4 linked regions of the Homo sapiens genome follow. The protein of the gene in region 1 interacts with the protein of each later gene in a biochemical or structural test. Each region holds a gene or a part of one and is shown in the gene's direction. Other genes may lie near its edges.

The links.
Region 2: the proteins of SH3GL2 (region 1) and SYNJ1 form a complex in vitro, tested with the Homo sapiens proteins (2 studies listed by BioGRID and IntAct, with this or other methods).
Region 3: of the proteins of SH3GL2 (region 1) and LRRK2, one has a biochemical effect on the other in vitro, tested with the Homo sapiens proteins (2 studies listed by BioGRID and IntAct).
Region 4: the proteins of SH3GL2 (region 1) and DNM1 form a complex in vitro, tested with the Homo sapiens proteins (2 studies listed by BioGRID and IntAct, with this or other methods).

Annotation. Positions count from the first base shown.
Region 1 is NC_000009.12:17,581,932-17,589,386, forward strand, and holds part of SH3GL2 (endophilin-A1), read left to right. Parts: intron 1-7,455. UniProt on the Homo sapiens protein: Implicated in synaptic vesicle endocytosis. May recruit other proteins to membranes with high curvature. Required for BDNF-dependent dendrite outgrowth.
Region 2 is NC_000021.9:32,717,685-32,725,139, reverse strand, and holds part of SYNJ1 (synaptojanin-1), read left to right. Parts: intron 1-7,455. UniProt on the Homo sapiens protein: Phosphatase that acts on various phosphoinositides, including phosphatidylinositol 4-phosphate, phosphatidylinositol (4,5)-bisphosphate and phosphatidylinositol (3,4,5)-trisphosphate. Has a role in clathrin-mediated endocytosis.
Region 3 is NC_000012.12:40,304,668-40,312,122, forward strand, and holds part of LRRK2 (leucine-rich repeat serine/threonine-protein kinase 2), read left to right. Parts: intron 1-1,117; coding exon 1,118-1,299; intron 1,300-3,799; coding exon 3,800-4,029; intron 4,030-4,438; coding exon 4,439-4,566; intron 4,567-5,763; coding exon 5,764-5,982; intron 5,983-7,455. UniProt on the Homo sapiens protein: Serine/threonine-protein kinase which phosphorylates a broad range of proteins involved in multiple processes such as neuronal plasticity, innate immunity, autophagy, and vesicle trafficking.
Region 4 is NC_000009.12:128,198,511-128,206,710, forward strand, and holds the start of DNM1 (dynamin-1), read left to right. Parts: upstream 1-4,868; 5' UTR 4,869-4,960; coding exon 4,961-5,121; intron 5,122-5,675; exon of another isoform or gene 5,676-5,712; intron 5,713-8,200. UniProt on the Homo sapiens protein: Catalyzes the hydrolysis of GTP and utilizes this energy to mediate vesicle scission and participates in many forms of endocytosis, such as clathrin-mediated endocytosis or synaptic vesicle endocytosis as well as rapid endocytosis (RE).

The DNA of each region.
Region 1 (7,455 bases):
CAGGTGATCTGCCCGCCTCGATTACAGGCTGAGCCCCCGCACCTGGCCTATAGCCTGGGTTTATAAGTGGAAGGAGTCTGTTCACGCAAACGTTTCTTTCTATGGAATTGAGCTTTTTTGCTTGTGTTAGTAAGCGATGATAAATAAAACAGTATATTGTTTGTACTTGGAATTTCTGATTAAATGTGTCACAACTGTTGTCTTATATTAGAATTGGTTATTTCTACCTTGTTGCTGACAGTTATTTTCAATATGTTTACAATTTGGAGGTAAAAAAATGCTTTTGCCAAGTAAAATTTATTAGAGAAGAAAATCCTTTCAGCATGAAAATATATAATGATACCAAAAATTGATTGATCATCTTATTTTCATGTACTTCATTACTTAATTGCTCATAAAGATATAATTTACTGTATAATTAGAATAAAGTATTCTTTTTTTACTGTAATAAAGGGCAGATGATCTTGTGTTGCTCTTTTAGTGAGTTTTATTCATATTGAGATTTCATTTTACAAAAGTCATGTCAGTTTTTTTACACTTGTTTTAAACTGGCAGCAGCTTAGTTAAAAATAGCTGTTTCCAGTGAACATGAAGCTCCTACAAAATCTGTATTTTTAAAAATTCACTCTATCATGCATATGATGTGGACACATTTTGCTTTACAATATGTAAAAGTCTATTATAAAGTAAAATATATTAGGTCATTTTATGAGTTTGCTGGAGCTGCTGTAACAAAGTACTACAAACTGAGTCGTTTCAACGACAGAAATACATTGTTTCCCACTTCTTGAGACAAGCACACTTGAAGTCTGAGACCAAGGTGCCAGTAGGGCCACGAGCTCTCTGAAGGTATGAGACAGGATCTATTCGAGGCTGCCTTCTTAGCTCTTGTGCTTTGTTGGGAATCTTTGGGCTTCCTTGGCTTGTAGATACATCACCTTGGTCTCTGCCTTCATGCTCACATGACATTCTCCCTGTGTGTGTCTCAGTGTCCAAATTTCCCCATTTTGTAAGGACCCCAGTCATATAGGATTGGGCAAGCCCATCCTACTCCAGTATGATTTTATCTTAAATAATTACCATCTGTAATGCCCCTATTTCCAAATAAAGTTGCATTCTGAGCTATTGTAATTAGGACTTTAATATGAATTTTGGGAGGGGCACAGTTCAATCCATAACAGTCGTTATTTGCATAAAAGGATTAACCACAGTATTCTATATTTGATTCAACATCTAAGAGGACAGTTCAGCCTATAAATAACATATAACTTTCTATTGCATCAAAAAGATATACTTTCTCCTTTTTTAATGAGTTGGTTAGTATATTGCTAAGTTCTGAATGTGTCCCTCTAAAATACGTATGTTGAAGCTTGACTGCCAATGTGACAGTATTAAGAAATGGGGCCTTTAGGAGGTGACTAAGTCATGAGGGCACTCATGATTAAGTCATGAATGGGATTAGTGCTCTCTTAAAAGAAGTTGAAGGGGTCACCCTGTCCCCTTCCACCGTGTGAGGGTTTAGCAACAAGGCACCATCTTTGAAGCAAAGGGTGGGCCCTAGCCAGGCACAAATCTGTTAGTGCCTTCATCTTGGACTGCTAGCCTCCCAAACTGTGAGAAATAAATTCTATTATTTATAAATTACCCCGTCTAAGATATTTTGTTAGTAGCCTGAACAGACTAAGTCAGAAATATACCTATTATAAATTGTGTTTTCTGATTTTTTTAAATGATAAAATTAATTTGGGTAGGCTGGGTTTTATGATACAGTCTGGTATATGTTTATTTGTCACACTCAGATTCCTTAACTGGGAAAATTTCATCATGTTTGTGTTCTGTGTCTTTTTGTTTTACCTAATTTCCTCTTTCAGAATGCTGTATTTTATATGGATGCTTTGCTCAGGAGACCATTACATAAGTCTTTTCATGCATTTGTTGATTTGGTGAGATGTTAAACTTACTAAGTATTGGATTAAATATCTAATTAGTTATGACTTTATCTCAGTGAGATTTTCAGTTTCTTAATTGCCTCTAAGCAGTCAACTCTCTGCTGCCTTTAAAATCTTGGCTGTGGCTTGTTGCTTGACCCAGGATTTCTACACCTGTACCCTTTCACATTCTTAGCCAGTAGTCTCTAATAGGCTGCAAGGGGCCTATATATTTTATAAAATTATAAGTAACATTTTATACATGCATTTTTCTGAGGGAGAATGCCCTTAGCCTGTTACCAGATTCTTAAATAAATTCCTAATTGCTGCCCCTTCCTCCCCTCGAAAAGTAAAAATAGGGTGGGGCGTGGTGGCTCACTCCTGTAATCCCAACACTTTGGGAGGCCAAGGCGGGCGGATCACTTGAGGTCAGGAGTTCAAAACCGGCTTTGCCAGTGCAGTGAAACCTCGTCTCTACTAAAAATACAAAAAGATTAGCTGGGCGAGGTGGCAGGTGCCTGTAATCCCACCTACCCAGGAGGCTGAGGCAGGAGAATTGCCTGAACCCAGGAGGCCGAGGTTGCAGTGAGTCAAGATGGTGCCACTGCACTCCAGCCTGGGCAACAGAGTGAGATTCTGTTTCAAATAAATAAATAAATAAATTCATCATGTCATCAGGAGAAAGTGGATGTTTCTTACAATAATCACTCCAACAGTTCTGTTACTGGGCTTTAGGATGCCTGATCAAAATGCAGCCTTCTCTGCATTAATTTAGCAGCAATCAAATGTAAAAAACCTTTCCAGAGGTGTCAGGATTGAATGAGGTAATGCTTGTGAGAGTGCCATGCTTGCATAATAAGGATCACTTGAACCATGTAAAACAAAATGTTGTTAATGCGCTTGAAGTCAACGATACGGGCCTGTGGGGTATATGAAAAGAAAGTGGTGACTGAAAATGATTTCTCTGTAGACTGAGAGTCCTCGTGATTGAAGTTTGTGTTGTTGAAACAGCTATATTTTTGCAAGCTTTTTTCCCCATAGTGATTCTTTAATATTTTAAATTGAGTTTATATGAATTTTGGTTTCAGTCTACTTAGAAAATTTTAAAGTAACCTGCAAATTAATTAGAAGTACCCTAGAAAATGGCAAGACTTGGTTGGGGCAAATGGTGACTGTTTTGAGACAGATGTCATTGTGGAAGGGAGAGGTTTAATATTCAGGGGAAGGGAGCTGAAGCTTGCAGAGCAGATTCCATTCTGCCAAGCCTCTTGTGCTGCATACAGAGTCTCAGGGCATCAAGCAACCCGAGGGCTTTCTTCAGAGGAGTAGCTTGAGGCAGCGGCGAGAGAAGGGCAGGACACACTGACAAATGAATAATGAGAATTAGGTGAGGAGATGGAGTTTAAGAACTGCTTCAAACTTTAAGGTGGATACCTGATGGGGCTTTCTAGAGATGAGCAATTCTTCTCAATTTAAGGCCAGATAGGGGAGATGCTAAGTAGGTAAGAAGTCAGTGGATTTTTTGGCCTCCTTTTTTCTCTTTTTGTTCTTTTAATCCTTCGTACCCTTGTCCTGTGTTCTTTTAGGTAATGTTCAGTGAGGTGTAGCCACAAGAGGGGACATAGGAGAGGCTCAAGAAAACAGAGTTTATTATACTCACATGTCTTAGAATGACAATCACTGTACAGGAGGATAGGAGGGGGGACACGTGGGGTGGAGGTGACAGCTCTGAGAGCAGGATCAGCTAAGCAGGTGGGAAACAGGTGGGAGCAGAGAGAGCAAGGACTGTGGGCAAGTGCCTTTACTAGTGATCTCAGTGCAGTTCACAGCTCAGTGCAGTTCACAGTGCGTTGCATTGGTGCATTGGTAGGTCGTGGTCAGAAGAAGACAGAGAGGTGAACTTGTGGTAGGGGCCAACCTTATCAAACTTGTGCACCTGGTTACCTGGGTGGGGTGTTCACAGTTAGCGTATGTGGGAATGAATGTTGAGGCAGCAAGAGGCAGCAGGAGACAACATGTGAAGTTTTGAAACTTTGTAGTACAACCCTTCTCAGTGTTTTTGGTTTAGAATTTATTGTTTCCATAATCACTTAAGGAGCCTAAAAGCTTAAGAATGATGTACATGGTATCCGATGGATAATAAAGACTAAAGAGAGCTATAACTATACTTATTAAAATGCCATGATTGTGAGACCCTGCCAAGTCTTTTGCATTCTACCAACAAAATATTTTCATGCTATACTAAATCATTAGCTGATGACAAATGCTTCAGGAAATAATTTCACTATTTATAAAGGTTTTACATTTAGTACAACTTCTAAATGCCAAATATGATGTTGTAGTTGCTCTACCCTAATCTCCCTCCGCCATCCCCTGGGTCAAATTGTATATAGTAGTAATGAATATGGAGAAGCTGTCTGTAATACTCGTGAAGAACCCACAGCTCCATGGAGGTTTACTTGGATACTTAGGACACTGAAGGACCTCTAGGCAGTGTTTTCTGCCTTTTTTTGAATTATGATATATATAAAAAATAGAAATATCTTTTTTATAATTCAAACTAACCTTTCCCCATAGATACTAATGGAAGCAGTTTTATAATGCTGAGAAACATCTCAATATCAAGCTATGTATTAGTCTGTTCTCATGTTGCTAATAAAGGCATACCCGAGACTGGGTAATTTATAAAGGAAAGAGGTGTAATTGACTCACAGTTCTGCATGGCTAGGGAGGGCTCAGGAAACTTACAGTCATGGCAGAAGGGGGATCAAAAATGTCCTTCACATGACGGCAGCAAGGAGAAGTACAGAGCAAAGTGGGGTAAAAGCCCCTTATAAAACCGTCAGCTCTCGTGAGAATTCACTCACTATCACGAGAACAGTGTGGCGGTAACCACCCCTATGATTCAATTACCTCCCACCAGGTCCCTCCCATGACACATGGGGATTGTGGGAACTACAGTTTAAGATGAGATTTGGGTGGGGACACAGCCAAACCGTATCACAGAATAATGCTTGAAAGAAACATAAAGCAGATAGCCTATGCTTTTAAACGTACAGGAAATCGGCTGGGTGCGGTGGCTCATGCCTGCAATCCCAGCACTTTGGGAGGTCGAGGCAGGCAGATCACTTGAGGAGTTTGAGACCAGCTTGGCCAACATGGCAAAACCTCGTCTCTACTAAAAATGGGAAAATTAGCCAGGCTTGGTGATGCACAGCTGTATTTCTGGCTACTCAGGAGGCTGAGGCAGGAGAATTGCTTGCACCTGGGAGGCGGAGGCTACAGTGAGCCAAGATCACACCGTTGCACTCCAGCCTGGGCGACAGAGCGAGACTGTCTCAAAAACAAAACAAAACAAAACAAAAAGTACAGGAAATAATGTCCACAGTGAATGACTCCAGTGAGGAAAGGAGAGAAGGGGAGTCAGGACAGTTATTGTCCATAACAGTGATGGCATCCTGCAGGGGGCATTGTGAAATCCCCTGCCTGCCAGTAGAGGAAGTTCCTTGGTTTTACAATCTGGCTCTGCAATCTGGGAAGAACTCTTGTTCTTTCTTATATATATTTGGCCAGGTCTAAGGAGGGTTAGAGGAAATCTGCCCTCTTTGGGAACGGCATAACTTTTCAGTCAACTTCCTGTTTATTTAAATTTGGGGATTGTTTTACAGTCATAGGGTTTTCACTATCCATGGTAGATTTGAGTAATGAAATTTCTTCATAAACTTAGTAGGCTTCTGGCCAAGTGCGGTAGCTCATGCCTGTAATCCCCGCACTTTGGGAGGCCGAGGTGGGCGGGTCACCTGAGGCCAGGGGTTCAAGACCAGCCTGGACAACATGGTGAAGCCGCTTCTCTACTAAAACTACAAAAATTAGCCAGGCATGGTGGCCTACGCCTGTAGTCCCAGCTACTCGGGAGGCTGAAGCTTGAACCTGGGAGAGTTGCTTGAACCTGGGAGGCAGAGGTTGCAGTGAGCCAGATTGCACCACTGCACTCCAGCCTGAGCAGTAGAGCAAGTCACTGTCTCAAAAAAACAAAAACCAAAAAAAAAAAACCAGAAAAACTTCAACTTAATAGGCTTCTGATGTGTTTTCTTGTGAGTTTCATTTGCCAATTTCTATGATGGAAATTCTTTTTTAGACCTAATTTTCATCCAGTAGACTTGGTTGTGTTACTCTGAACTTAACAAGAGGGCCTGATACTTTGGCTTAACCAAGAAGTCTTAATGGTACTTTGTTGCTCAAAGTCTTTTTCATTTATATTTCCCGTTATTTGCTTCAGGGACTCAGGATGACCCTGGATCGGTTCTGCCATCTGTAACATATGGTTTTCAAGGTTGCCAAAGGGAAAGAATATGTTTGAACAAGCATGGGAGATGTTCATAAGCCAGGCCTGGAAGAGGAATATGGTAGACAGAATGCTACGATTGTTGGTGACTCTTGCTCTTGTGTACTCTCCTCCCCTTTGAGTGTGGGTGCAATGTTCAATTTGAAAAGATGTTATTCCTGAGACTTTTAACTTTGTAAGACAAAAGGGAGATTATATGATTGGACTTAATCTAATCTCATGAGCCCTTTAAAAGCAGGATATTTTCTCTGGCTGGTAGTGGAAGGAAAAATCAGAGAGATTGGAAGTATGAGCAGGACTGGACATGCTGTTGTTGGTTTAAAGAGGGAGGGGCCATGTGAGTAGTAATGCAGGCAGCCTCTAGGAGCAGAAATCAGCTCTTTGGTGACCATCAGCAGGGAAAATAGGGATCTTAGACCCACAGCCTTGAAGAATCTGAGAGGAAGGGAATTCTTCCCCCAAGCTTCCAGATAAGAGCCCAGTCTAGCCAACGCCTTCATTTTGGCCTTGTGAGGCCCTCAACAGGGAGCTCACTTAAGCAGGCCCAGACTTCTAATTTATAGAATTGTAAGATAATAAATGGGTATTGTTTTAAGCTGCTAAATTTGTGGTAATTTGTTATACAACAGCTGAAAATGAAGAGAAGGAATAGTTCCTTCTGTTTATGTTTGGTTGGCTGGAACTTGTAACATGGCCCCTCTGTGGTACACCTAAGAGAAATGGAAGAAGGCAAGTGTAGCCTAGCTATGTGCCCAGGATGTAAAAGTGGGTTTTTGGTTAAAAAGCTAGCAGTTTTGCTATTACTGGTGCCTATAATTAATTAATTGTGTGTCTGTATATTAATCTATTTGTGAGCTTGTAAGTGTATGTATATGTGCATATGTCCATATGTACATACACAACATACATATGCACATATGAATTTTAAGTCTAGTTTGCTGAATAAGTCTTTTCTTAATACATAAGGCTCAGTATGTTCCATGTGCCTTTTGAAACTGTCGTCCAGGCTGGGGTATAATGGGGCGATCACAGCTCACTACAGCCTCAATCCTCTGAGCCCAAGCAATCCTCCCACCTCAGCCTCCAGAGTAGTGGGACTATAGGCGTGTGCCGCTATGCCTGGCCCATGTGCCTTTTTAATATATTTTTTATTTTATAGATTTTTTTCTACAGTGCTTTGGC
Region 2 (7,455 bases), on another chromosome or scaffold:
AAACTGTGTATTACTTATAGTTTTTAGAATTATTGCTACACTTTACTCCAAGGTTAGGAAACCTAAGAATAATAATATTTCCAAAACCTCCAGCAGCCGTCTTTTATGCCAAATAATGGTTTGTTTTTACCAAAAGGCCCTAAAACATTTATTTTGGCATTAATGTGCATTCTAAGGAGAAAGAATATTAAAATATTGTCTAAGCTATTCTATTTTCATTAGATTTAGACTATGTGAGCAATTCAGAAAAAAAATGTTGGAATATTGACTCTTTCTGTAAAGCTAACATAAATGGATGTCTAATCTCTTGGAATGTCATTATCTTTCCTACTATAAGCTTTACAGTAATACTTAACATATTAATATTTAAGAGCTAACAAACCTTCTTAAGTCATTTGACTTTTAAAATTAATTTGGCCTTCATTTTGGAGTGATACCAAGGTTTGTATTGTGCTGTACAGTGTTCACTTAAAATCTTCACACTTTAAAAATGCCTATTGTATTCAGAAGCTGTGCTTGGAAAATATCAATGTGTTCTCTTCATCTTCAATAATCCCAGCTCCCTGAATTTCAGTGCATTCTGCATATTCATCTACCTGAAGAATCTTCTAAAATCATGTTTTTTCTTTGTTTGTTTGCTTGTTTGTTTTTTGAGACAGGGTCTCACTCTGTTGCCCAGGCTGGAGTGCAGTGGCATGATCTCGGCTCACTGCAACCTCCACCTCCTGGGTTCAAGTGGTTCTCCTGCCTCGGCCTCCCAAGTAGCTGGAATTATAGGTGTGTGCCACCACGCCTTGCTAATTTTTGTATTTTTAGTAGAGACAGGGTTTCATCATGTTGGCCAGGCTGGTCTTGAACTCCTGACCTCAGGTGATTCGCCTGCCTCAGCCTCCCAAAGTGCTGGGATTACAGGCGTGAGCCACCGCGCCCAGCCCTAAAATCATTTTTTATATTAAAGCAAAGTGTAACCCTGTTTTTCACCAAGATTAAGTTTGTACTCCTCAACCTGTCATTTGTCCAGTGTTGATCTCCTTTAAGGAGATCTGGTGTTTCCTCAGTGCCTTCCCAAGCACCATGCTTTTTTCAGCTTCATCATACTGTTGCTTTTTACACCTTCTTCCTCCAAGACAGCTAGAGTGCTGCTTCTCTAATCTGAGCCTGTCAGTCCCACCGAGGTCCTACTCAGGTCTTCTTCCTTCATAAGACTCTGCCCCAACCACTCCAGCTCACCTTTATCTCTACCTTCTCTTCATTTCTCTAGAACTTACTCTGTATCACAAGGTGCATACTTCTTTTTTGCTTTTATTTTTTGAGACATGGTCTTGTTCTGTCACCCAGGCTGGAGTGCAGTGGCATGATCACAGCTCACTGTAATTGAACTCCCTGGAACTCCCGGGCTCAATTGATCCTCCTGCCTCAGCCTCCTGAGTAGCTGGGACTACAGGCGCACACGACTATGCCCAGATAATTTTTTTCGTATTTTTTTGTAGATAGGGGGCTTCCTCATGTTGCCCTGCTGATCTCAGACTCCTGGGTTCATGGTTTCCACCTGCCTCAGGCTCCCAAAGTATTGGGATTACAGGCGTGAGCCACTGCTCGCAGCCAAGACGCATACTTCTTATGTGCTGGTTTTGTTGTTGTCTAAATGCTCATATGTAGGTGTTTTTCTTGGAAAGGGGTGGTGGAAGTGACCTTAGCAGGACTTGGTCTTTATGTACACAAAGTTCCTAATTTCAAGTCTCTACTTGCCCTGGCTTTACTTTAAAAAGTAAATTTTAAACAGACATTTTAGTCAGCATACAGTGTTGAGGATTAGCAATCACTTAATTTTCTTGGCCTTTGCTGAAGTGCCATGAGATACCCAACATGAAATTTTGTCTTTCATACTATTAGCACATACCAAAAGATTGCAAGTAAAAATACAATGAAAATAGTCTCATACAATGGATCCCCTTAGGGACCCACGTGTTCACTAATGCAGCCTCAAGACTCTGTCTTTATGTCGATAGGATTCTAAGCTTAAATCAGTCATGATGTTATGACATTATCAGTGTTACAGTCACCTGGGCAGCTTTTACAAATACTACTGTCTGGGCTCTAGCCCCCTGGATATTCTGATATAATTAGATTGTGATGCTCATTTCTGAGCAAAGTGTATTTAGGCCTTTCTATGATAGATTAGGGGATTGCTTTTTTTTGGCTTGCAGATTTTATCCAAAATAACCATGTTTCCAGAATTTTGGTGCTGTTGTCTTTTATGGGGCTACTAAGTAGTTTTCTTGAAACTGTCAGGCTGAACCAAGTGCTAATACTCTTGTAGCACTTTGAGTATAGTGCCTTCATATCATATGGAATTCTGCTCAGGTTCTGTGTCTGGATGCCGCACTCCTTGAGGAAAAGGCCTGTGTGTCTTAGTAATATTTGCAGTCTTAGTGCTTAGTGTAGTGTTTTACTCATACTTGAAGAAAATGTGATTATTAAATGAATGACAGCAAGGGAAAGACTAACCTAGATTACAAAGTTGATAAACATGCAGTTATTATGTTTGAAAATAAGAGATATTTTTCCGTAAATTTTTGTTGTTGTTTTTTGAGCAGAGTCTTGTTCTGTCACTGAGGCTGGAGTGCAGTGGTATGATCTCCGTGCACTGCAACCTCCGCCTCCTGGGTTCAAGTGATTCTCGTGCCTCAGCTTCCTGAGTAGCTGGGACTACAGGCGCACACCAACATGCCCAGCTAATTTTTGTATTTTTAGTAGAGATGGGGCTTCACCATGTTGGCCAGGCTGATCTGAACTCGTGAACTCAAGTGATCCACCTGCCTTGGCCTCCCAAAGTGCTGGGATTATAGGCGTGAGCCACCAAGCCCAGCCCTATAAAACTTATTTCATATACATACATGCATACATTATATATATATATATATATATATATATTTTTTTTTTTTTTTTTCTTTGAGATGGAGTTTCATTCTTGTTGCCCAGGCTAGAGTGCAATGGCACGATCTCGGCTCACTGCAACCTCCCCTTCCCAAGTTCAAGTGATTTTCCCGCATCAGCCTCCCAAGTAGCTGGGATTACAGGCATGCGCCATCATACCTAGCTAATTTTGTATTTTTAGTAGAGACAGGGTTTCTCCATGTTGGTCAGGCTGGTCTTGAACTCCCGACCTCAGGTGATCCGCCCGCCTTGGCCTCCCAAAGTGCTGGGATTACAGGCATAAGTCACTGCACCTGGCCTATTTCCTATGTTTTTGAGAATTGTTATCTGACTGAACTGCTGATATAAAAGATGTATATTACACATTATTTAGATTTGTTATTGACAAATCCTATTGGAAATAACTGTTAACCACATTATTAAGGTTCTTCTGAAATGCCAATTTGAAATGTCTATGATAAATGTTACTTATTATTTCTATAAGTACTATTAATTTGTTTCAAAATTACTTTTTTTTTTTTTCCAAGATGGAGTCTTGCTCTGTCACCCAAGTTGGAGTGCAGTGGTGCAATCTTGACTCACTACAGCCTCCGCCTCCTGGGTTCAAGGAGTTCTCCTGCCTCAGCCTCCTGAGTAGCTGGGACCACAGGCGCCCCCCACCACACCTAGCTAATTTTTCCTTATTTTTAGTAGAGACAGGGTTTCACCATGTTGGCCAGGCTGGTCTCAAACTCCTGACCTTGTGATCCACCCACCTCAGCTTCCCAAAGTGCTGAGATTATAGGCGTGAGCCACCACGCCTGGCCTTCAAAATTACCTGTTTAAAATAGAAAATAATTTCATTATTATTTCTTCTGTTGCATTGATTTATTTAAAACACTTTCTAAAAAGTTCTTACCCTTAGATAACAGTTAATATGTTTTTTAGGAGTGTACCCATTTTTAGCATTACTCAGTTTTGAAAAGTATTTGTACAGCAAGTGTTTGATTAAATTGCAATTTGATGTCTTTGGAATAGTGGTTCAGTGTAGCAGGTGAGCTCTGTGACTAGTTTGCTGCATCTACCAGTTTAAGCAGCTTGTGTGATGGTTAGCAAGTTATAAACAGGTACATATTTTTTTCCTGGAAACAATTTATTAAGAGATAAAAGATGTCTCTCAGCTTTGTGTACAATTCATTGTTCTTAGTCTTTCTCCAGTTTACACACACATACACAAAGACTGTCACAGGAGAAGGACAAGCTGTCAGTCTGACATACATGCATTAAATTCACAATCTCAATATTTTACAGCCCATCTCAGGCTTCAATAAAGTGAATGATTCATTTCATAATTATATCCTAAATAGAAGATGGAGTAAAGAAAAGGTCAACATATGGGAAATGGAGGATAACTCTAAAAACAGAAGTTATGGACCTCTACGTAAAAGATGGGGAGGTGAGGTGGCGCCATGGATTCCTAACTCTTAAAATTAAAGCTTTTGCTCTTTTCCATATTACATGCTAGCATGGGAGTAAGGATGAATTGCTTTTATCTGTCTAGTGGTAAGATTACTTTCAGGCTTTTCAAGTAGCATAATTTGAGTCAGATTAGGACTCAAATCATGCATTTTATAAATAGCAAGGCCATATCACTGCACCTGGTTTTCCTCCAAGTTGTCCTTATGAGATTCTTTGTCTACCTAATTTTTTCTTACAACATAAGTCATAATACTATATATAATACTCAATATAAGTCATAATACTATAGGATGATATTCTGAGATCTTTATTACAGAATATGAAATATCCTCTCTTTTCTATAAAACTGCGTAAAGGACTAATCGTAGTGAAATGATAATGGCTACCACTTACTGGAAGCTTATTCTGCCAGTCACAACATTAAGCCAGAGGTTTTTAAACTTCATTGTTTTATGGTGACCTTATTATCTCATTAAGTTGTTTTTGTTTTTGTTTTTGTTTTTGAGAGGGAGAGTTTCGCTCTTGTTGCCCAAGCTGGAGTGCAATGGTGCGATCTCGGCTCACTGCAACCTCTGCCTCCCGGGTTCAAGCAGTTCTCCTGCCTCAGCCTCCCAAGTAGCTGGGATTACAGGCATGTGGCACCACGCCCAGCTAATTTTGTATTTTTAGTAGAGACGGGGTTTCTCCATGTTGGTCAGGCTGGTCTTGAGCTCCTGACCTCAGGTGATCTGCCCACCTCGGCCTTCCAAAGTCCTGGGATTACAGGTGTGAGCCACTGTGCCTGGCCTCGTTAAGTTTTTCACAACACCCCTAGGCCACAAACAATACTTAATAGTTCTGTTTATTAAATAGTTAGGTCCAAAAAATATTTGTGTCCCAACAGCTTTTGTAGCTGTTCAAAAAAAAAAATGCAGAAAAAATAGAACATTTATTTTCTTCATAAGTAACCACAATTTACTAATGAGATGTGTGTGCTTGTTGAGCACTGAGCACTAAATAGCTTTTCTTTTTCTTTCTTTTTTTTTTTTTTTAAGATGGAGTTTTACTCTTGTCACCCAGGTTGGAGTGCAATGGCACGGTCTCGGCTCACTGCAACCTCTGCCTACGGGTTCAAGCAATTCTCCTGCCTCAGCCTCTCAAGTAGCTGGGATTGCAGGCACCCGCTACCACACCTGGCTAATGTTTGTATTTTTAGTAGAGACGGGGTTTCACCATGTTGGCCAGGCTGGTCTCGAACTCCTGACCTCAGGTGATCTGCCCACCATGGCCTTCCAAAGTGCTGGGATTACGGGCGTGAGCCACTGCTCCCAGCCTGCATAGCTTTTCAAACCTTGGAACAGAGTACACTGCCGTCCTCATTTCCTGTTCCACATTGATTTTCAAGTGACACTTGCTTTTATCACAGCAACCAGCAAAAACCCGGTTTCACTAATATATATCATCCAAGGAATGCACTGCAATCTAATATGACAACTCAAGCACCTCAGGTTAATAGTTTGGCTGGTTTCCAGCATGTGTTGAGAATCTCAGTGTTTCCTTCTGTTTAAAATATGCAGCTTCCCTGGGAGTTTGCTGTAGTGCCGTGGGGCATCTGAGCACACAGTTCAGGAGATGTGGCATTTGACACACTTTATTTCATTCAGTTCAGATTGTGCTTTTATCCACATTTCAGAGATTTGGAAACTGAGGATTGGAAAGATAACTGCCCCAATGACATAGTCCTACCATTTAATTTTTTTTTACTGTAATTATTGTTTGTGCTGTTGTGAGGCTATTGTATTACCATATATTGTGTGGCTATTATTTTCAGGGGTGGGGAATGAAGTGTAAAAATAAGGGAAGGCGTTAAGGTTAAGAGTGTAATTGGTAGCATTTTCTAATGAGGGAACTGTACACTTGTGTTTTTCCCTACAAACTATTAACATATTAATATATTAGAGGAGAAAGTATGGTTTAATTTACAGTAAAGTCATTAAAAACAAAGTTTCTTTCCTGGGCCAAGTTAAATGTCAGGTTCTAGACTTTTGGATAAATATAGTAGGTGGTAATGCCAAACAGTGTGTGTAGTTTGTTTTTTTTTTTTAATTGCCAAACGCTGTCAACATGATTGCCCTTTAGATAAGTTGCAGTGTCCTGTCTCTTTTAAAGAAAAATTTGCAAGTTGAGGGAAGAAGTGACTTTTTATAGTTGACTTTTTCAGCAGAGAAATCATGAAATTTAGACTTGTTATATATCACTTTATGTTAGGGTTGCAAAAATTCATTTTCTTTTTATAAATACCTTTGGAAGGTGCATATTTATTTTCTTTCTTTTTTTATGTGCCCCTGTAGTCTGAGGAATGTACGTATTTAATAGAAAGTAACTTAAATGTCAACTCTTTAAAAAGAAAATCAACCAAACTTTTTTATTCTGGGTTGGTAGTAGGATTGACCTAGGGTCAAACCAGTAGTTAGTTCTTAAGTGCTTTCATTTCTTCACCACTTAACTTTGCTATGAGGAAATAAAAAGGAAAGGCAGAACTTCCACTCTCACTGAATAGTAAAAACTCTGTGGCTTTTTATTACATCATCTCAGGTCTATCAGATGTTCTAACTTGTCCTATAAAATATACGTAACTCAGGACTATAACGGGAGCTTCTGACCATAGTGGAGTAACAGGAACTAGATTTACCCTCCTACCTTAAGTAACAACAACAAAATGAACAAAATACATGGAATGATTTGCAGACCTTGAACAAAAGGCAGCACAAGATGCTGACCCCTGAGAGAAGGGAAACAAATGAGGTGGGTTTTATGAATGCTCCAGCTTACTGCCTGGAGAGCTTCCAGGCCACAGCAGCAGAAGAGTCACTCAAGCAAAGCTTGACAGGATTCCTGAGTAGGGAATATGGGGAGGCCAAGGCAGCCAGAATCTCAGGGCTGTGTACTAGAGATGAGACAGTTGCACAAAGAGCTCCAGAGATCTGTAGAGGACTCCGTTTGAGACTTCAGCTCAGTGTTGATCGGTGCCAGTGTGTAAGGAAACCATTTGAGGCAGGGAAAGAATCACCAAAAAGGAGT
Region 3 (7,455 bases), on another chromosome or scaffold:
ACTAGCTCATAAAGAGTGTTCTATGGAATAGTAGTGGATGTCATTTAATAACTATAAATTCAAAATAAGCATTGTAAATATCAATACCATTCAATTTTTTTTTGTTTTTTAAACAAGTTGTAAGCCTACCCTATGGTAAATGGATATGGTAACACAGCATAATTTCCTCAAAAAATTACTTTTGTGATATACTTTTAAAGGATTATATGAATATATACATAATTATAGATGAATGTGATGCTGTGTGTCATTGTATCACCAAATCTCTGTCCAATCTGTTAACAGACTCTTAAATAAACCATTTTTCTCAAGTTGTTACTGGCCTGTATACTGTATTACTTGTTTTTCAGCTTTCCTTGGTACATTCTTAAATTTCTGCATTCCGCCACCATGCTATCACCCTAATGGATCAACCTTTTTTGTTTTGCTCCATTCTCTCTGTTGTAAATCTGAAATTGATAATTTGTTTGTCTCAGAAAATATTATTTTTCAAGTTCTAGCGTATTGCCTACAAAAACCAAAAGAATTAAGTGTCTGACACTGTGAGGTTCAGCAAAACTGTGCATATATTTTGCTACCTGATTTTTTGCCAGCAAATGAGTGTTTTCTATTATAAATATAGTATATATTGCTTAAAAATTTGGAACAGAAAAGAAATTACTCCAATTAGGATGCCACCTAAAGTATAAGCATGTAGCTGTACTTTGAGAACACTAAATTGCATGCAGGTTTGTAGTGACTAGGTCTTCTTGCCTTTACTGAAGGAGCAGAATGAAGTCACAGATAATGGATAACCAAATCCATTTTGTGGTAAGAACTTCCTTACTTTCAATGTCTTGAAGAGATGAAGTATGTTACCAAAGGAGATTGGGTTTTTTAATATTACAGATGAGTGACATAGATTGTTTGGGAGTAAGTTTTTATATGTAAGTTTTTATGTTTTTAAACACATACTGACAACTTATGACAAACCTTTGGAAAGTTTTAAAACTCTGTTGAAAGGTTGTGCAAGCTGCTGATGGAATCTGTGAGCCTTTCTTGTTTCTTATCACGTTTTTTGGCAGAGCACATTTCTTCCTTCCCACCAACAGGTTTTGCCCTTTTTTTTCCCATTAAGATTCCTCCTGAGATTGGCTGTCTTGAAAATCTGACATCTCTGGATGTCAGTTACAACTTGGAACTAAGATCCTTTCCCAATGAAATGGGGAAATTAAGCAAAATATGGGATCTTCCTTTGGATGAACTGCATCTTAACTTTGATTTTAAACATATAGGATGTAAAGCCAAAGACATCATAAGGTTAGATAATTTTTTTCTATTTGGTTTTACTAAATTTATTTCAGATTTTCTACTCTCTGTGACTTTGATGGACATATATTGTTACTATTTAGGGAAAAATAAATAGTAATATTTGGCATTAATATGCTGTGTGTCATTTGCCTTTCATTTAATGAATGTGTTTCTGTGGTGCCACTGTAGAGATTTCTCATTCTTCTTAGCCAGACTAATGTTGAGAGCGGCTTCTCCTCCTTCTGTTTCTTTTCAGTGGAGTAGACTCTAAAAGAAAATAAGTATTGCTATTTGGTCTCTGGTTACCAATTACACAATCTAAAGAAATACAGCACAGTATAATAACTTCTCACACTGTATTTCATATAGCAACTAGTTAACATATGCCTCTTACATCTTAAAGCATTATAGCTACTGACATCATGTGAAATTACTAACTTCTATTTTGCCCATTAGGATGAGTAATCTACTCACCTTGATCAGTTTTGAAAGCACCAAAACTTCTCAAGTATCACTGTTTCTGGTCTTTACACTTTAAGCACTTTAAATATCTTTGGTAATGGATTTTATCCTCCTTTTTGTTCCCTTTCAGCACATCGGTCTTATTACTTTCTCATAAAATCCTTTGCTCCCTTTTCCACAGTTACTGTATTAACGTTGCAGACCTCAGCTCTGTCATCACCTCTCAACTTGACTGTAATATCCACCAAGGCAGAGACCATGGCTGTGTTCACTCACTATTCAAATCTTGGCACCCAACACAGTGCCTGGCATACAATTAATAGTTGTTTAATTACCAGTGATTTATACTTACTCATTCTCTTCTGCCTAAAATCTCTTAAATTTATATTTAACTTCATCTGTTTTTATGAGGAAGGATTTTGTTTTCTGAACTCCTGAGCTTGATTTCATTTTAAAGGAGTTTGTTATCTTTTGTGCTAATTGTGGCTACCCTTCATCCTACCCAATTATTTTTCTCTCTTGAAACTGGAAAAGATGGTCATATAAAAATTGGTTCAGTTCTTACTAAACATTTAGTAGAACTAGCTTTCAGTGTATTATACTGTATTATCTAACTAAATATTTTTAATATTTAATATTTAATTTAATATATAACTAAATATTTTTAAACATGTTTAACATTTTCAGAAAAGACAGAAAGACCTAGAGCAGATTAGAAATTGTAGGCATCATTTGCTTTTTGAAGAAAGACATTTTTTCAAATAGTGGTGCATTCTTAAGAAATAAATCAAGAAAGGTAATGTTGCTTTTTGGTCATATCATCAGGAATGTTGGTCAGATTCTTATTAGTTACAGGAATGAATTGATCACTACTCTGATGTAAAATTCACTTATGATTTAGTCTTTTTCTCTAATTTGAAACTGTGGCAACATTTTAACATATTTCAAAATATATCTTTCTCTATCCATTATATTTTTGATAACACTTTGACTCTACTATTAGTTTAAAGGTGGTTTTTTAGCTACCTAAACACTTCTATTTCATTCAGGTTTTACATTAAGATCATTAGGAATGAAAGCTAACATCTGCTGATAGTATAATAGTTTATATTTATTTATGATGTTATGTGATCTCACTATCCATATATACTATTATATGCATATGTGATATACATGAATATATAGCTATACATCATATATACCATATATGAATATATACACACACATATATAATGTAACTAATATGACCCTATTATCAAGCTTTAACAGTATACATATATCTCTACCTTGTTTCTATGTCATATGGACTTTGTGAAATTTTGAACTTTATAATTTATAGGGTTTTTCTTTTCTTTTCTTTTCTTTTTTTTTTTTTTTTTGAGACTGAGTTTCACTCTTGTCACCCAGGCTGGAGTGCAGTGGCCTGATCTTGGCTCACTGCAACCTCTGCCTCTTGGCTTCAGGCGATTCTCCTGCCTCAACCTCCCAAGTAGCTGGAATTACAGGCACCTGCCACTGTTCCCGGCTACTTTTTGGATTTTTAATAGAGACGGGGTTTCACTATATTGGCCAGGCTGGTCTCAAACTCCTGACCTCATGATCCGCCCACCTCGGCCTCCCAAAATGCAGGGATTACAGGTGCGAGCCACCGCACCTGGCGTATAATTTGTAGGGTTTTTCATACTATTTAAAGACATTAGAATATGTATACATGTATGTATATGTGTGTATATATAGAGGTATATATATATTGCATATCGTATTCTAATTAGTATTGCAAACATATTTTGGCCTTTTGATTATTTCTGGTGATAGTGTAACATGTTTTCTTTGGTGATTTTACCAAACATTATCAACTACCCTAAAATCTCTAGCAAAATATATGCATTAACAGTACTCTGAAAGACATGTACATTATTAGTTATATGAGATATGCACTCTTCTGGATACTATATTTTAGAATAGTGTGACATGTAAAAGAACTCACCTAAATCTCAAGTATACTTTTAAGCAGTTTATTATTTTATTTTTATCTTTCAAATACTAGGTTTCTTCAACAGCGATTAAAAAAGGCTGTGCCTTATAACCGAATGAAACTTATGATTGTGGGAAATACTGGGAGTGGTAAAACCACCTTATTGCAGCAATTAATGAAAACCAAGAAATCAGATCTTGGAATGCAAAGTGCCACAGTTGGCATAGATGTGAAAGACTGGCCTATCCAAATAAGAGACAAAAGAAAGAGAGATCTCGTCCTAAATGTGTGGGATTTTGCAGGTATTTCTTTCTATAGAATTTTAAAATTCACTTTTACCATTTGTTTGGAACAGGGATTCAAAAACTGAGCTTTCTGTTCTAATATCCAGAAACCTGGTAGACTGTATGGAATTATTCCAAAGCCCTTCATTTCTCCTAATTTTACCCTTGCCTCCAGAATGGAGAAGAACATGGAGGGATATGTTAGGAACAATTTGGTGCTAGGTACTTTGATCGGTTGCTGACAAATATGCTAAAAGTGGTCAATCCTAGTAAAAACCCAGAATAGTTCTCTAAACATGGTCTGTTGTTTTTCTCTTATTAGTATGCTAAATAATAAATAGTATTATTCTCCCAGATTTTTTTTTAAAAAAGGATTCTTGCCTGTCGTTTGAAAGATTAAAAAAATTTGTCTCTAATCTTTATTTAGGTCGTGAGGAATTCTATAGTACTCATCCCCATTTTATGACGCAGCGAGCATTGTACCTTGCTGTCTATGACCTCAGCAAGGGACAGGCTGAAGTTGATGCCATGAAGCCTTGGCTCTTCAATATAAAGGTGATTTGTTCTGATCATTTGAAAATAGAAAATAATTCATGTGTCTGTGTGCGTGTGTGTGTGTGTGTGTAAGTTAATTTATTTTGGGCAAACAATTGCTTCAGTCTCTTTAAATACTTTCTTAAAAGAAGCACTAAAATTTTGAATTGGGAAACTTTCCGAGTAATGAAGTCATAACATGAAAATTGTATGTTCCATGTTGGTGAATGTTATTGGTAACCTGAAACTCTTTTATGCTGTAAAACTTGAAAATATATATGTTCAACTGTTTTTTAATTATATTATTTCTTAAATGAAATCTAAATTTTTCTAATTTAAAATAAGCTATATTAAAGAAAAGCAATCTATATATATATATCTCATCAACTTTGTACTCAGGGGCCATTTAGTGTGAAATTCTTCAGATTGTATCCTTTAAGTGGTCCCAGATTATTATGCTGTTACATCTGGAATCTCCCTTTTGTTGCTTTTCTATCTTTTCCTTTGTTGTCTTGTTGTCAGCTATTCCTTCAAACACTATGGCTTTTTAGAATGGAGACTAAACTGCTGCTTGCATGATGCTGCAATGAACTCTTCTGTGCATAAAGTCCTTAAAAAGCTTGTGTCAGGACATTTAACCATGTAATTGGCTGCATACATGCTTGTTTTGTAATTTGGGTATTTTTTAATGTTTCTTTTATTAACTTTTTTACAGCTAGCCAACGTGAGCAAATAGTACAGTGGCAGTCATATTTGCTTGAGTGGCTTTTATTCTTTCATTGTAGACTCCAAATTGGTTGACTTTAAAACGAATTTAGAAGATTAAATTCACAGATAAGGAAGAGAAAATATAAACTATATGACGTTAATTTGATATAATTTGTGGGTTTATGAAATGCTTATTTTATTTAGGAGTGAATAACTCATCTTAAGGCATGAAGATGGGAAAGGAAAACTATACCACTACCGTTATATATGCCACCTAAAAGGGTGAAGAATTGGGTTAAGAAAGGCCAAAAATGACTTTTTAAAATGTCGTAAGGTTACATTTTTTTCTTAGGTTTAAGGAAAAAAGGACAGTTGTTCTTTTCTTCTTCTGAAGTCTGCTAGTTTCTCTTTTCCATTCAAGTGAATGTCACGGAAAGCAAATATCAACAGGAATGTGAGCAGGCCCAGTTTGAAAGCAAACACAAGAGGGTTTTGTGTCTTTCCCTCCAGGCTCGCGCTTCTTCTTCCCCTGTGATTCTCGTTGGCACACATTTGGATGTTTCTGATGAGAAGCAACGCAAAGCCTGCATGAGTAAAATCACCAAGGAACTCCTGAATAAGCGAGGGTTCCCTGCCATACGAGATTACCACTTTGTGAATGCCACCGAGGAATCTGATGCTTTGGCAAAACTTCGGAAAACCATCATAAACGAGAGCCTTAATTTCAAGGTAACATGGTAGGCTGGTAGAGAAATGTAATTTATTGATTCTCAACTGCCTAGAAATGTCAGAAATTTTGAGAAGTGAGCAACTCACTTAAAATTGTGGGTTTTCTTTCCTTGTTGCTGTTAGCATTATTAAAGTCCTTTCCATTTTAAAATTATTTATGCCAGACTTCATTTCTAATTCATAGAAATGGGAACAAAAAATAATTAGAGGAACCTGAGAGAAACTAAGAGACCGTTTCTGGGATACTGAGAAAATGTTTCTGAGAGAGAATCTGAGAAAATGTTTTTGATGCCTTTTCTGATTCAACTTCTTATAGTGGTGATTCAATCACAAGGGTAAAGGTGAATACTGAGGTCTTGGGATCATCTTTCTTCTATTATTCTTTAACTGTTATTTTTCCATTTCCTCTTTTCTTTTGGAATTCCTGTTTTATGGACATCTTGATCTTTTGTGCCACTCATTCATGAATTTTGTCACTGTGATTCCCATTCCAATTTTTTTCCCTCCGTATTGTGAGGCAGCTGTTTTATTTAGTCATGAAGACCACTAACTTGGTTTTCAGCAGTGTCTCACTAATTACTTAGTTCATACAAAATGGGCTTTTTATTTTAGGAATTATGTTTTAAATGTTTAAAGTTATCTTCTCGTAAGCCAAATTTTTATAAAATGTAAATAAATCAGTTATCAGAGAGAACACTTTTTTTTTTAAATACTTGGCAGAAAAAAGAAATCTTCACTGGGTACTACAGGGAGTGTGGTGTAAACTGTACTGAAAAATACCCTTGATAGTTCCATATGACAAACATAATGATGAATTTCACTTAGTCTGTCTTGGCTTAGCTCAATAGCACTAATGATCAAGATACTGGCTGATAAATAGAGTCCTATTTGGCCTGGGCAGTCCCAGCATAATTATGTAATAGTGTCCCACTATATTCTCAAAAGCATTCCAATTTGGATGATAAATTATATAGTCACCTTGGTTATAACTCCATGCTGGCCAGTTAGCTTAGTTCTGTTCCATTTATATAGATTATGTGTGCTTCACTCCAAAACCTAATGAGCCATTTGTAAAAGTGATGGCTTTTGCGGTGCCCAGGGAGAGAATTTGTATGTTTGTATCCTTCAACACACATTTATTACAGTTATTAAAAGGTTTTATTGATGATAGATGGTAATGTCATGTAAAAATGACATATTATTTATTTGTAGACTTTCCTATTCTCTTGTTGGACATGTAATTAGAAACTAATATGACTTAAAGAAAAACAAATACACAAAATTTATTCATCCAATTAATCTCTTAATCCAGGTGTTTTTTTTTTCTGAGACTATACCCATACTTCAATAACTTTGTTGTTACTGAGAATATTTTGAGTTTCCCTTTTTGTCATTGTTGTCAGAGAATGTATCATATCTTTAAAAAGACTTGTTGGAGGATGAGTTTGTTTTGAAAAGGCCTGAATTTAGTTG
Region 4 (8,200 bases), about 110 Mb from region 1:
ATGTATACAACACAAATACTGTCAAAAAGGGCTCGTGTTTTGGCCAGGCACGGTGGCTCATGCCTGTAATCCCAGCACTTTGGGAGGCCGAGGCGGGCAGATCACGAGGTCAGGAGATCGACACCATCCTGACCAGCATGATGAAACCCCGTCTCTACTAAAATACAAAAAATTAGTCAGGTGTGGTGGTGAGTGCCTGTCGTTCCAGCTACTTGGGAGGCTGAGGCAGGGGAATCGCTTGAACCCAGGAGGCGGAGGTTGCAGTGAGCTGAGATCGTGCCACTGCACTCCAGCCTGGCGACAGAGCGAGACTCCATCTCAAAAAAACAAAAGGGTTTTATTTTTTGTGCACTAAAAATATGTATTCACCACACAGCATCTCTGGGAGAAAACCATCGATTACCAGAGCTGGCATAGTGTAGGATGTAAATATGGAAGCTCTGAGTCACACTGACAACCGTCTACATCTTGACTCCATCATTTCTTGGCTATGTGACCTCAGACATGTTCTTTACTAACCTCTCTGTGCCTCAGTTTTCTCATCTGTCAAAGGAGGCTAATAAAACTTCTTTCTCGGCTGGGCACGGTGGCTCACGCCTGTAATCCCAGCACTTTGGGAGGCCGAGGTGAGTGGATCACCTGAGGTCAGGAGTTCAAGACCAGCCTGGCCAACATGGTGAAACCCTGTCTGTACTAAAAATACAAAAATTAGCTGGGCATAATGGTGGGCACCTGTAATCCCAGCTACTCAGGAGGCTGAAGCAGGAGAATTGCTTGAGCCCAGGAGGCAGAGGTTGCAGTAAGCAGAGATCATGCCACTGCACTCCAGCTTGGAGCTGGAACAAGACTCTGTCTCAAAAAAAAAAAATTCTGCCCAGCACAGTTGGTGGTCAAAACTTTGGGAGCTCAGCCATGTATGGTGGCTCACACCTATAGTGCCAGCACTTTGGGAGGCCAAAACAGTAGGATCACTTGAAACCAGGAGTTCAAAACCAACCTGGGCAACAAAGCAAGATCCCGTCTGTACAAAAAAAAATTGTTTTAATTAACTGGGCATGGTGGTGTGCACTTGTAGTTTCAGCTATTTGGGTGGCTGAGGCAGGAAGCCTACTTGAGCCCAGGAGTTTGAGGCTACAGGGAGCTGCGATTGTGCTACTGCACTCCAGTCTGGGCAGCTGAGCAAGGTTTATCTTATCTCTAAAAACAAACAAAAAAACAAAAACAAAAAAGCTTTGGGAGCTCAAGAGAGAGTAAAGAAGCCATTTCTTTCTTTCTTTTTTTTTTTTTTTTTGAGATGGAGTCTTGCTCTGTCACCCAGGCTGGAGTGCATGGTGTGATCTCGGCTCGATGCAACCACCACCCCTGCCTCCCAGGTTCAAGCAATTCTCCCACCTCAGCCTCTCGAGTACCTGGGATTACAGGTGCGGGCTACCATGCCCAGCTAATTTTTGTATATTTAGTAGAGATGGTGTTTCGCCATGTTGGACAGGCTGGTCTCCAACTCCTGGCCTCAAGTGATCCACCCGCCTTGGCCTCCTAAAGTGCTGGGATTACAGGTGTGGGCCACTGCACCTGGCCCTGAGATTCTTCTTTTCAACCAACTCCATGTGATGCCAGGCTGCTGGCCTGGCATCAGTGATACAGCAGTATAGGATACTTAGTATAATCCCATTTCTGTAAAAACAAAATGGAACAAAATGAATATGTGCATATATGAAAAACAAAGCCAGAGAACGATCCCTAAGCTATAGTGGTTATCTCTAGGTGGGAGGATGACCAGAGGTTTTCAAATACTTGTGTAAAGTCTGGTTTTACAATAAGTTTCAATATTGTAATTAGGGGGGAAAAAGTAAAAATAATAAAAGCTGGCTGGGCATGGTGGCTCACAGCTATAATCCCAGCATTTTGGGAGGCTGAGGCGGACAGATCATGAGGTCAGGAGTTTGAGACCAGCCTGGCCAAGATGATGAAACCCCGTCTCTACTAAAAATACAAAAATTAGCTGGGCACAGTGGCGAGCACCTGTAATCCCAGCTACTCAGGAGGCTGAGGCAGGAGAATTCCTTGAACCAGGGAGGGAGAGGTTGCAGTGAGCTGAGATCACACCACTGCACTCTAACCTGAGCGACAGAGCAAGACTCTGTCTCAAAAAAAAAAAAAGAAAGAAATACAAAAAATTAGCTGGGCGTGGTGGTGCATGCCTGTAGTCCCAGCTACTTTGGAGGCTGAGGCAGGAGAATCACCTGAACTTGGGAGGCGGAGGTTGCAGTGAGCTGAGATCACGACACTGCACTCCAGCCTGGGAGACAGAGCGAGACTACGTCTCAAATAAATAAATAAATAGGCTGGGCACAGTGGCTCATTCCCGTAATCCCAACACTTTGGGAGGCTGAGGCAGGAGGATCACAAGGTCAAGAGATCGAGACCATCCCGGCCGACATGGTGAAACCCTATCTCTACTAAAAATACAAAAATTGGCCGGGCGCAGTGGTTCACACCTGTAATCCCAGCACTTTGGGAGGCAGAGGCAGGCAGATCACAAGGTCAGGAGATGGAAACCATCCTGGCTAACACGGTGAAACCCTATCTCTACTAAAAATACAAAACATTAGCCGGGCGTGGTGGCACGAGCCTGTAGTCCCAGCTACTTGGGAGGCTGAGGCAGGAGAATTGCTTGAACCCAGGAGGTGGAGGTTGCAGTGAGCCAAGATCGCACCACTGCACTCTAGCCTGGGTAACAGAGCGAGATTCCGTCTCAAAAAACAAACAAACAAACAAAAAATACAAAAATTAGCTAGGAGTGGTGGCACGTGCCTGTAGTCCCAGCTACTCGGGAGGCTGAGGCAGGAGAATCGCTTGAACCCAGGAGGCAGAGGTTGCAGTGAGCTGAGATCATGCCACTGCACTCCAGCCTGGCGACAGAGTGAGACTCCGTCTCAAAAATAAATAAAATAAATAAGTAAATAAATAATATTAAAAGCCCAGCCATGATGCCCTCTAGGCAAACATCTATAAACTGCACCCCCTCCTGGTGCCAGTCATCCAGGCTTCCATCTCTGCCTTCTCTTGTCCTCAGAGCATAATAACAGGTTGGCATGGAACAGCTGCCAGGTTCCATGCAAGTTGTGTGGCACTGATGCTCCAGCTGTCTGGTGAGCTGTTATCATTGGCATCCTCACAGCTGCAGCTTAATAAGGGCCCCCTGAGCACTAGGCCTGGGCTGTGCCCTACACAGGCATTTGATCTATTATTATCCCCATTATCCAGATTAGTTAACTGAGGTTCAGAGACGTGGAGGGACCTGGGTCACGCAGCTTGTTTAAGGCCCAGATTAGACTCCTAATCCACTCTCTGGTGCTACCAGGGAGAGGGCCTGCTTGTTCCCCATGCCTGCCTCGAAGATTCCTCCCCACAAGGGTCACTCTCTGATCACCATCTTCACAATAGCAACACCACCCTACCCCGCCCCTGCTTTCTTGCTCTGCAGGGCACGCCATCTAACAGGGCCATCGTTATTGCCCTATTTGCATATTGTCTGTCTTTTTCCACTGAATTGTCAGCCACATGTGGGTAAGGACTTTGTCCGTTTTGCTCACTGCTTTATCTCTGGAGTCTAGCATAGTACCTGGCTCAACAAATACGCATTAAATGGATGAGTAAGTGAACAGTCTCCAATTCACAGACCACTTTGTCAGCAGTGCCCCCACACTGTTCACAGCGCAGGGAAATGACTCACCGACTCCCCATGAGCACAGTGTAGGCTAGCCTTCCCTTCCTAGCCTCCACCGTGAATACTAATTAGGTTTCTTAAATGCAGAGATGGACGGCTGGGCTCAGGGCCCCATGGTCTGTCTGTGTGAAAGGGTACGCAGGGTAGGATTGTAGGAGCCCTGGATTTGAATCCCACTGTTTTACGCTGTTTTACCACCATCCTGATGGGTTGGAGCAAAGACTTCCACTCTCTAGGACAAGAGCTTCCAACTCTCCCAAGAAGGGCCCTCCAGGTGTCAGGGCCTCTGCACTTGCTGGTCATTCAGCCTGGCATGCTCTTCCCCTGATCTGCTTGCTGCTGGCTCCTTCTCATCATTTTGGTCTCTTCTCAAATGTCACTTCTGCAGAGAACACCCCCGACTCCTGCCAAGCCAATGTGAACTTTCCACACCCACAAAGATACCTTTTTTCACCCTGTTTATTTCCTCCATCCCTCTTACTATGAATTATTTTCATTTTTACTATTTCATTTATCTGCTTACTTATTTACTGTCTGTCTCCCCAGCTTGATGCAAGATCTATGAGGGCAGAGGCCTTGGCTGTCTTATTCGTTGCTGAATCTTCAGTGCCTAGGACAGGGCCTGGCTTCTAGCAGGTACCTAGTAAATATTTGTTGAATTCATGTTCCAACTTTCTCCTTCTAGAAACAAGGAAACTGAGGACCAAAGGCAGAAGAGGACATGTTGGAGATCAGAGTCAGGATCTAGGGATAGAAGCCAGCGAGATGAAGGGGAACTCATCTCGGAGTTCTGACCTCTGAGGTCAGGAGGCTGTGACCTCAGAGGAAGCCCATCTGCTCTCCAGGCCTGTTTCCTCATCGGTAAGATGGAGTGAAACATCCAGACCACTCTCCAAGAGGCCTGGTACTAGGAGTGAGACCCAACCCATTGACAAATATATTCTGCGCAGCATCCGCGCACCCCAGACACTGCTAAAGCACCCCAAAAGCCGCAGAAGGTGAAAACTACGACACCCATGATGCCCCGGACGGCGCCTGCGCACGGCGGCCGGCCCGCAGCGCCGCGGGCTCCCCCTAGCGGCGTCCGGGAGCGGTGCTCGCTCCGATCCCCGAGGGGCGGGGGCCCCGCGGCGCAGGCAGTCTGGGCGCGCGGCTGCAGCGGCGGAGCCGGAGTCGGAGCCGGGAGCGCTAGCGGCAGCCGGATCGCAGCCTGCGGGGCCCGCCGCAGCCATGGGCAACCGCGGCATGGAAGATCTCATCCCGCTGGTCAACCGGCTGCAAGACGCCTTCTCTGCCATCGGCCAGAACGCGGACCTCGACCTGCCGCAGATCGCTGTGGTGGGCGGCCAGAGCGCCGGCAAGAGCTCGGTGCTCGAGAATTTCGTAGGCAGGTAGGCGCGGCGCGCCCCCAGGCGCCGACCCCCGACCCCCGGGATCCCTGGAGTCCCCGCCCGGGGCACTGACGGCGCGGCGACCTCGCAGCCCCCGACGCTGCACCCGCGGCCGGCGCGCCCCCCACCCCCAGCCGGAGCGAGGAGGCCCTCCCCCCACCACGAGAGCCCCTCGGGGCAGCAGCGCCCCCCGCTAGTCTGCAAACGTCGTCAAGCCTCCGGCTACCGAATCACGCCCCCTCCTCCGTCCCATCCTTTAGGGCAGACAACGCTCTGCCAGAAGCCCCGGGCAAAGAGCTGCCCCCCGCCCCCAACATGGGCATGGAGAGAGCCCGCATTACTCAGCGTCTCCGTTGGGCTCCGGGAGTCCCTTGGAGCGGGCAGCACCCGGGGGCAGCGTCCCCCACACCGGGCTCAATGGGGGACATCCCCCTACCCCCATGGGAATTCCTGGGCCGTGGCAGAGGTCAGCCCCCGCATCCCAGTCCCTAGAAGAGGACGTAGTCCCGCGGGCATCGAGGACCGGGCACGGCCTCCCGCCAGCACACACACACCTCTGCGGCTCCCGCCGCCATCCGTGCGCAGCGCGGCGAGGGGGGAGGCGCGGGCTGCAGGATGAGGAAGGGAAGAGGGGAGGAGAAACCACTTCTTATCCTTTTCTGAGCAGCCGGCCCCTTGCTTCGCCACGGCCCCTGGGTGGGGGGCGCCTGTCAGTGTCGCCCTCCCCTTGGCCTGGCCAGAGGAATCGTGTTGGAGGGAGAGGCGGCAGAGGGCAGAGATGACTAAGACAGGGATGGCGGGAGGGGGGAGCCATTTGCAGAACCTAATCCCCCTCCCGCCTCTGATCCCACAAGGCGCTGAGAGGCCTAGGTGGCGGAGAGAGGAACAACCGCAAAGACAAAGGGTCGTGGGTTTAGCGGGGCAGGCAGGGTCGTGACCCGCAGGCTCCCCACAAACCCCCAAAGGGAGGCAGAAATAGTTTTTCTGGTGCTGAGGAGAGAGAAGAAAGATAGGAGCTCTCCAGGTACTGGAGGTGGGTTGGGGGGCTGGGCAGACTGGGGGATGAAGTGAGAGAGTTTACACTGACCCCGTCTTTCATCTCCCCCCCATCTTCTTCAGAAACTCTTGCTTTCTTCCAATGACCTTCAGGGCCAAAAAAGTGACTGGCACATGGGAGAGGGAGGCAGGGGCCCTTGTCCGCAGAGGTACAGCAGTTCTGTCCAAGCCAGGTTCTGCTGCAAAACCTCAGGCAAGTCACTTGCCCTCTCTGAGCCTCAGTGTCCCCATCTCTAACATGGACAGTGGGACTGGGTGGTTGTTCCTGCCCCTCAAATGTCCTGGGAAACCCATGCCAGCCCTAGAGGTGAGAGGGAGAGGGCCTGACTGGAGCCATGTGTGTGTGGGACGTTGGAAGGCCACCGTGGGGGCGGCCGTGCCCATCTGGTCAGCAGAGGGGAAGGCATCTGTCTCTCCAATGGCTCCTGCAGAGCCCCCCTTCTGATCACATGACCCCCGGAGCTGCAGAGACACAGGCAAGAGACACACCACGGGCCCCTTCCCCAAGGGCCAGCAGTCAGGGATATCCAGCAGTTTAGAATGGAGAAACCATATTCCTACCTCTCGTCCTTTGAATGTTGGCTGAACTCCTGCCCCATGCCAGGCTGCGTGCTTCAGGCTTGGGGTAGGGAGGGGACCAACTGGTGATTTCAGCCCGCATCTACTGAGCCCATCCCATGCATCCCCCTATGCTGAGTCCTTCATAGGCTCACAGGAGCTCCCAAGAGGCAGGTACCATGATGCCCATCCTACAGATGAGGAAACTGAGACCCTGGAGGTTAGATGCCTTGCCCAAGGTCACACATTCAGAAAGGGCAGCAGCTGTTAGACTCCAAAGCCCAATTCCTAATCTCGACGCTGCACATCCTCTGACAGCCGGGTCCTGCACCAGGCACAGGGACGTGTGGGTGGGTGGGCCTCCATTTCCCCATCTGCGGAATGGAAACGCTGACAGCCGCTGCCCTGCCTTCCTGAGAAGGTGACTGTGGGCTCCACCGAGTTCATGGGTGGAAAGGTGCTTTTGTAAACATGCGGGAGGGGGCGCTGATAGCCAATTAGGCTTGGGGACCTGCATGCCCAGCCCCTGCCTTCCTGGAGCCCATGACGCAGGGGCCATCCCTGACCACAGCAGATTTCATCGAGTACTTGCTTGTTGAGTGGTGGAGCAAGGTTTGGACCGTGCCCCAGGAGGCCTGGGCCCTCTGGCTGCCCTCTCCACCCCAATGCCCTTGGCCGTTGTCCCCACAGGAGGATGTGCAGGGTGTCCAGATGCAGGCCCAGGGCAGGGGAGGGGGCTTAGGTTGATGTGAAGGAGTAGGCAGAAAAGCATTCATGATCCTCTGAAAGCTAGTGAGAAGGCCAGGGAAACTGAGGCTCAGTGGGTTCCACTGTCTCAGCCTGCCAGCTCCCTCAAGGGCTCCTGACCTCTCCAACAGGGCTCAGTCCCCAGACTGGTGAGCATAGTAACAGCCATTCTGTCTCCTGGGGCTTCCCAGGAGCCAATCCCCAACAGAAAATGCTTCACAGGAAAATGCATCAGGGCTGCCCCAGGCCCACCCGGGCTTCTGGGTGCTCAGGAGGATCCTGCTGTCAACTCTGCAATGGAGGTAGCCTTGCAGCTGCCTGGGATGCTGCTAGAACTTGTCTGGGTCTATACTATTTCTTCACCCCCTTCCCTTTTACAGAAGGGAAAACTGAGGCCAATTCATTCAGTCATTTAGCAAACATTTGTGGAGGGTGCACGATGTCTCAGCACTGGGGATTCTATGGTGGAAAAGACCAAGACTCTGCACTGCAGAGGGAGAAACTCAGAAGACAACTGGAAAATGTGGTGAACGTCAGGGAGGGGAGTGGGGCTGCTCTCCCCAGGGAGGTCAGAGGTCTCCAGGAGGAGGTGGCATCTGAGATGAGAACCAAGGGATGAGAAGCTGTGTAACTTGCCAGGGGCGGGAGAGTTCCAGGCCAAGGGAAAGGTGCAAAGGCCCCGGGGTAGCAAAGAATTTGGTGCCTTTGAAGAACAGAA